Homo sapiens: one gene and its partner. The protein of the gene in region 1 interacts with the protein of each later gene in a pairwise test. Each region holds a gene or a part of one and is shown in the gene's direction. Other genes may lie near its edges.

Evidence for each region.
Region 2: the proteins of INSC (region 1) and USP54 interact in binary tests that used the Homo sapiens proteins (3 or more experiments, as listed by UniProt).

The regions. Positions count from the first base shown.
Region 1 is NC_000011.10:15,236,923-15,240,422, forward strand, and holds part of INSC (protein inscuteable homolog), read left to right. Parts: intron 1-1,996; coding exon 1,997-2,152; intron 2,153-3,500. UniProt on the Homo sapiens protein: May function as an adapter linking the Par3 complex to the GPSM1/GPSM2 complex. Involved in spindle orientation during mitosis. May regulate cell proliferation and differentiation in the developing nervous system.
Region 2 is NC_000010.11:73,514,843-73,518,342, reverse strand, and holds part of USP54 (ubiquitin carboxyl-terminal hydrolase 54), read left to right. Parts: intron 1-595; coding exon 596-1,968; intron 1,969-3,500.

The DNA.
Region 1 (3,500 bases):
CCAGCTGAGGCCATGAAGCTGAGCTACTGCATCTGTGCTCCGTTCTTTCGGTACTTATAGAGCCTTACGTTGAAGTGTTCAGTGGGAGTGGGTCTCCATAGGCCTGTGAATTTGAGATTGGAATATCTGGCATCTGTAGAGGGTTTTATGGTTCACAAAGTGCTATTGACTGACTGAATCAGTAAACAGTTATTGAGACCTAATATGTGCCTGGCATTGTGCTAGACAATGAGAACAGAGATAACTAAATCCCTGTCTTTGTCCTAGAGGATCTCACAGTCTAGACAGAGAGCACAACTTAACAAAAGTGACATATGATAAAAATATAACATCTACAATAGAATAATGCAACAGAGGGAGGTTGGCATGGTGGTTGAGGTTGAAAACTGGAACCATACTCTGTGGGTTTGAATCCTGGCACTGTTGTTTACTAACCATATGACCTCTCTGTTTTTTCATCTGCAAAATGAGAATAATCCCTACCTCATAAGGATGTTGTGAGGATTAACATGAAGCACGTTAGAAGATTGTCTGGCACAGAATGAGCACTATGCTAAGCCCCCCTGCTCTTTCAGGAAACAGTGGCAGTCTCACGGGGTTTACCTGAAGAGAGTTTAATGAAGGAGCTATTTTCCAAAGCAGGGCAGGATTTGAGGAATCAACAATGGTGTCAATGCAACTGGTGTCTACTGGAAGACAGGCCTCTAAGGTCTGGACAGGGCAAATCTTGTTGTGCAGACTGGGCTTTGAGAGTCCATGGTCTAAATAACAGGTTGCAAACTTAGATGCCTACAAAACTCAGACAGGTAATGTAAATGGACGAGGCGAGCTCACCAGAGACAGGATCAATCTCTTTTAAAGAAGGAACTCATAATAAGCTTTAACAATTTGTTGTGCAGAAATGAGGTCCTAGGGTTAAAATTCAGGAGGCAGTTTCAGAAGTCAGAAATCTAGATTTTTATAGAAATCCTCCAGTTAGCACACTATCAAAAATCTAAAAAATTGTAGACACTATATGGGGCAACAAAACAAAGCAAAACTATATCCTTGGGTCATGTCTGGCTTAAGTTCTAAGCTGGCAGGAGCCACTGGGTGCAGAAGAGGGGAGTGTGGGATGGGCAGTTGGGCAACAGCTCACACAGAAGATGAACTTTTGCTACAACCTGCAGGGTGGAGTTTTTTAGATGGAGCGTCAAGAGGGAAAATGGCATCCCTTGTAGAAAGAAAGAGTGGGTAAAGGCAAGGAGGTATGAGCGGACATGGGTATGGTTTCTAGAACAATCAGAAGACAAATCTGGTTTCAGGGAGAGGTAGGAGGCTTCTCAGCAGAGATTATTCGGTTGAAAACTCTCAGTCTAACTACTGCACCCTTTTCCAGGTTGAATTTACTCTAAAACATTTGATCTAGTCAATATCCAGCTTAGGTTTGGATCACCTCTTACCTGGGGGATTCATCACCACTGGACCTGTCTCAGAAGCAGCCAGTATCAGAAGTGAAGAGGTGATGTAGAGAAACCAGTTATCTGAGTTTCTTTCGTTTTCTTAATCCTAAATGTGATGCTACATCTGAATTTTAATAGCGGCTCCCCCAACTGCTAACCATGTGACACTGGGCAAGATACTTCACTTCTTTCTGGGCTTCAAAATGGAATTGTAATGGTACCTAATACATGAGGCTACTGGAAGGTTTTAGGGCATTATGCATTTACTATGCATTTAGCACAGTGCTGAGTGTGTAGTAAAAGCTCAATAATAGCATTAAAAAATAAAGATGTCTTCAGATGCTCCTCCCAAGTATAGTGACTTGGTACATGGAGACACCCTCAGGAGAAGAAGGCATGGAGGAACAGCCTTGTCCAGCTTCCTCCCTGTGGGTGAGACCCCTGAAGTCATCCTGACAGCCTTTGCTTGCACCCTGCAGCCATCTGTCCAGCTGGCCCCATGGGGAAGGCTCCATGCTGGGGTAGGTACCAACTGTTCCTTGCTTCCTGCCTAGGGGTCCAGCTTATCATGGGCATGCTGTCTGAAAAACCAAGGTCTGGGACTCCTGCTGAAGTGGCAGCCTGTGAGCGAGTCCAGCAGAAAGCTGCAGTGACCCTGGCTCGTCTCAGCCGAGACCCAGATGTGGCACGGGAGGCCGTGCGGCTCAGCTGTGAGTGGTGCTTTCTGGCTGTGGCTGGAGTGGAGTGGGGGTATTGGGGGTGGGAGCAGCTCTGATTTCACAGTGGCAACAGTGGACACAGGGCAAGAGCTGGCTGGCATAAGCCCTGTCTCTGGGGGCTCAGGGGTGGAGGCTCAGGGGTGCAGCCGCTGGTCTAGTTTGTAACTTGGGGCCGAAGCAAGAGGGAGAAAGGACCTAGAGAGGTGAAAGTTGGCCAGAACAGTGACTCACCTGCAGACTGTTAATAAGAACCCCATTCTTTCATTCACTCATTCATTTATTCACTTGCTCAGTTATTCATATACTCATTTATTTACTTGTCTACTCACTTGTTCATTTACTCATTAATTTATCCTTTAGTTCATTTATTCATTAACCCATTCATGACTTCATTATTCACTATTAACTCATTCATTAATTCACCCATTAACATGCTCATTCATTCAGTCACTTATTTACCCAACAAATATTGTCAGAGCACCCACCCTATGCTAAGCTCTGTTCTGAGCGCTGGGCATGTAACACTGGATATGACATTGTCCTGACCCCAGGGGCTCACAGCCTCATGGAGGTGACAGATAAAAAAAGAGATATTCTCACTTCAGTATCATGGGAGTGACACCCAAAGCATGTCCATGGTGCATTTGGCATGCACAAGAAGTAGCTCATGTTTATCTGGGTGAGTCAAAGAATGGTTTAACAAGGGGGTGAGTCCTCTGCTGTGGTTTGATGGGTAAGTTGCTCCTATGTGAAGGCTGAGAAAGGGCTCTTCGGGAAGAAGCATGAGAAAAGGCATGGCAGTGTCACCAATCATCCAGGTACCCAGAGGGACAGCCTGGGGCAGCAGAGGGTTCCTGTTCCTTCAAGACCTTACAGAAGATGGACACACAGACTGCATTTGCATACCTTCTACTACTATCGTATAATGAGGGTGTCTTTTTTTTCTTAAAGTGTAAAAAGAAGTCAGTCTGCATTGCAAAGCTAAGTCATTCACTTAACTCTCCTCAGTAAAGCCCTAGGAAATATTAGTAGAGTCTGTAGTTTTATTTTATTTTAGCCACAGTATATTTTCTGATTGAAATTGGCACTTGAGAAAAAAAAAGACACAGTTAGGAATTTTGTCTGGTAAAGATTCAAATGTTAACCCGCATCTGTGGGTTTGGCTTGGACTCTTCAGCTTGGCCTGACCCTGACCCGGGTCTGTTCACCACTGAGGGAGTAGTAAGTTTCCACCACAGACTCCCCGAGGTGGGTTCAGTCCCCTTCTCTGGCAGATTGGGTGTGCAAGGGAGGCCCAGAACCTCTGGGTCAGGCCTGGCTGGGCCCTGTCCTGGGCCTG
Region 2 (3,500 bases), on another chromosome or scaffold:
GGAAACATCTCAGTGACTAATAGAACAAAATCCAGATTATAAAAACATATTTGAAATGGTTAATTTCTGTGTATTCCCATGAGCCCAAATCACCCTGTATTTTGTAAATGTGGCCTCATAGTTCCTTTGGCCGGGCTGCCTCTCAGGACCCCAGGTAGGACTTGCCTCCCTGTATAGCATCCTGGATTTTTGCTGTTTGGTATGAGTGATTTTCAGGCTTTGCTTACCTTCCATGTCATCTGCATGTGAGACTAGCTGATTTTGTTTCCTAATTTGCAAGTAGAATGTGATTGGAATGCGACTTCACAGGTAGTGAAGAATATTGGCAAGGGCTCCACTTAATGTTACTGTGCAACTTTGGTGAGGGTGTTTAATAAAGAGGATTAACGTTACCTATTTACCTGAGTGTGAGCTGACCATGTGCCTTTTCTTTTGTGATCCTCTGAACTACTGACTCTACTTGTGCTTGTCTTTCTGTTTATTTTTACCATTCCCTGTGTGAATAGCTAGAAATGGGAATGGAATGTTGAGTTCTTTCTGTAAGTGTTCCTGTCAGTCAAGGCAGCTTATGACTAGCTCTCTCCATTTGTTTCAGTGAACAGCCTATCCCGCTCCAAGTATTGTTAAGCCAAGAGGCCCAACTGGAATCCGGCATGGATACAGAGTTTGGGGCCAGTTCTTTCTTCCATTCACCTGCTTCCTGCCATGAGTCACACTCATCACTATCTCCAGAGTCATCTGCCCCACAGCACAGCTCCCCCAGTAGATCTGCCTTGAAGCTTCTGACTTCGGTTGAAGTAGACAACATTGAACCCTCTGCATTCCACAGGCAAGGTTTACCTAAAGCACCAGGGTGGACTGAGAAGAATTCTCATCATAGTTGGGAGCCATTGGATGCCCCAGAGGGTAAGCTGCAAGGCTCTAGGTGTGACAACAGCAGTTGCAGCAAGCTCCCTCCACAAGAAGGAAGAGGCATTGCTCAAGAACAGCTGTTCCAAGAAAAGAAGGATCCTGCTAACCCCTCCCCGGTGATGCCTGGAATAGCCACCTCTGAGAGGGGTGATGAACACAGCCTAGGCTGTAGTCCTTCAAATTCATCAGCTCAGCCCAGCCTTCCCCTGTATAGAACCTGCCACCCCATAATGCCTGTTGCTTCTTCATTTGTGCTTCACTGTCCTGATCCTGTGCAGAAAACTAACCAATGCCTCCAAGGCCAAAGCCTCAAAACTTCATTGACTTTAAAAGTGGACAGAGGCAGTGAGGAGACCTATAGGCCAGAGTTTCCCAGCACAAAGGGGCTTGTCCGTTCTCTGGCTGAGCAGTTCCAGAGGATGCAGGGTGTCTCCATGAGGGATAGTACAGGTTTCAAGGATAGAAGTTTGTCAGGTAGTCTAAGGAAGAACTCTTCCCCTTCTGATTCTAAGCCTCCTTTCTCACAGGGTCAAGAGAAAGGCCACTGGCCATGGGCAAAGCAACAATCCTCTCTGGAGGGTGGGGATAGACCACTTTCCTGGGAAGAGTCCACTGAACATTCTTCTCTTGCCTTAAACTCTGGGCTGCCTAATGGTGAAACTTCTAGCGGAGGACAGCCCAGGTTGGCAGAGCCAGACATATACCAAGAGAAGCTGTCCCAAGTGAGAGATGTTAGGTCTAAGGATCTGGGCAGCAGTACTGACTTGGGGACTTCCTTGCCTTTGGATTCCTGGGTGAATATCACAAGGTTCTGTGATTCTCAGCTTAAGCATGGGGCACCTAGGCCAGGAATGAAGTCCTCCCCTCATGATTCCCATACGTGTGTAACCTATCCAGAGAGAAATCACATCCTTTTGCATCCACATTGGAACCAAGACACAGAGCAGGAGACCTCAGAATTGGAGTCTCTGTATCAGGCCAGTCTTCAGGCTTCTCAAGCTGGCTGTTCTGGATGGGGGCAGCAGGATACCGCCTGGCACCCACTTAGCCAAACAGGTAAGAATGCAACCAGGGGTTGGGGGGAGGGGGGAGGATCATATAAAAGCTGAAAGCAGGGAAAGATCAGAAGGGAGTGTTCTATACAGATACTATCCCCAGCTTAGTAGGAGGTAATAGAACTTTTGACTTTACTCAGAAAGCCTTCAGGACAAGACCTAGACATTTTTCTGGCTAGAGTGGAGGAAGGGGCAGAATTACCACTCATAGGCAACTTCCCTCCTTCTAAAGTAAGAGATTACTAAGTATTTGCCCATGGCTTCTCCAGTATGCTGTGCTAAAGAATGGTTCAGGGCCGGGCACGGTGGCTCACTCCTGTAATCCCAGCACTTTGGGAGGTCGAGGCGGGCAGATCACAAGGTCAGGAGATCGAGACCATCCTGGCCAACATAGTGAAACCCCTTCTCTACTAAAAATACAGAAAATTAGCCGGGCGTGGTGGTACTTGCCTGTAGTCCCAGCTACTCGGGAGGCTGAGGCAGGGAAATCACTTGAATTCGGGAGGCAGAGGTTACAGTGAGCTGAGATCGCACCACTGCACTCCAACCTGGGTAACAGAATGAGACTCCGTTTCAAAAAAAAAAAAAAAAAAAGAATGGTTCATAGGTGTTTGAGAGTGATTCAGCATGACAGCATGAAATGGAGGGAGGCTGAGAGGAAAATATATTCTTCTATGGCTTAGAATCCCAAGATTCAGCCTCCAGGTCTGCTTTGCAGTAGGATGTCCATATGCTCAGTGTGGACATTTCCAGATCATACTGAACCAGCAATATCAAGACCTTCCTGATCCCTTTAGGAAAAGTCAAGTTTGGTGTTCAAGGAATTTTTAATGTACTATATGCCTACAGGGTAGCCACTGACTGAGATAATACAGAGTGAAGAGTAGAGCCTGCACCTGAAGTGCACATCATAGTCAGTTCTGGAAATTGAAGACATGAAGAATGTTTGTAACTTACATTGATGCACTTAACTCCAAAGCCTGAACTATTTTCCTGATTCCAACATTAACTCTCAGTATAAATTTGGACAAGTCACTTAATATCCCAGGGCCAAGGTTTTACCTGTAAAATGAGAGAACTGGCTTTTTTTTTAAAAAAAGATATGTTCTAACTCTAAAATGGCATGTATGATTCTGTGAAATTGAACTTGGAGAACTTTTCCTTAGCTTGGCTGTGACAGTTTCTGTAATGGTGCAGGTTCCTTGCATGCTGACAACCAACATATAATTACAGTTGAGTAAGTGTTTATTGAGTACTTACTGTGTTCTCCAGAGCCTTTGAGGGGAATACCACATAAATATAAGATTTGATTTTTTATTCATTTTTTTTTTTTTCTGAGAAGAGTTGCACTCCTGTTGCCCAGGCTGGAGTGCAATGGCGTGATCTCAGCTCACTGCAACCTCCGCCTCCCGGGTTCAAGTGATTCTCCTGCCTCAGCCTCCCAAGTAGCTGAGATTACAGGCGTCCACCACCACACCTGGCTAACTCTTGTATTTTTAGTAGAGACAGGGTTTCACCACGTTGGCCAGGCTG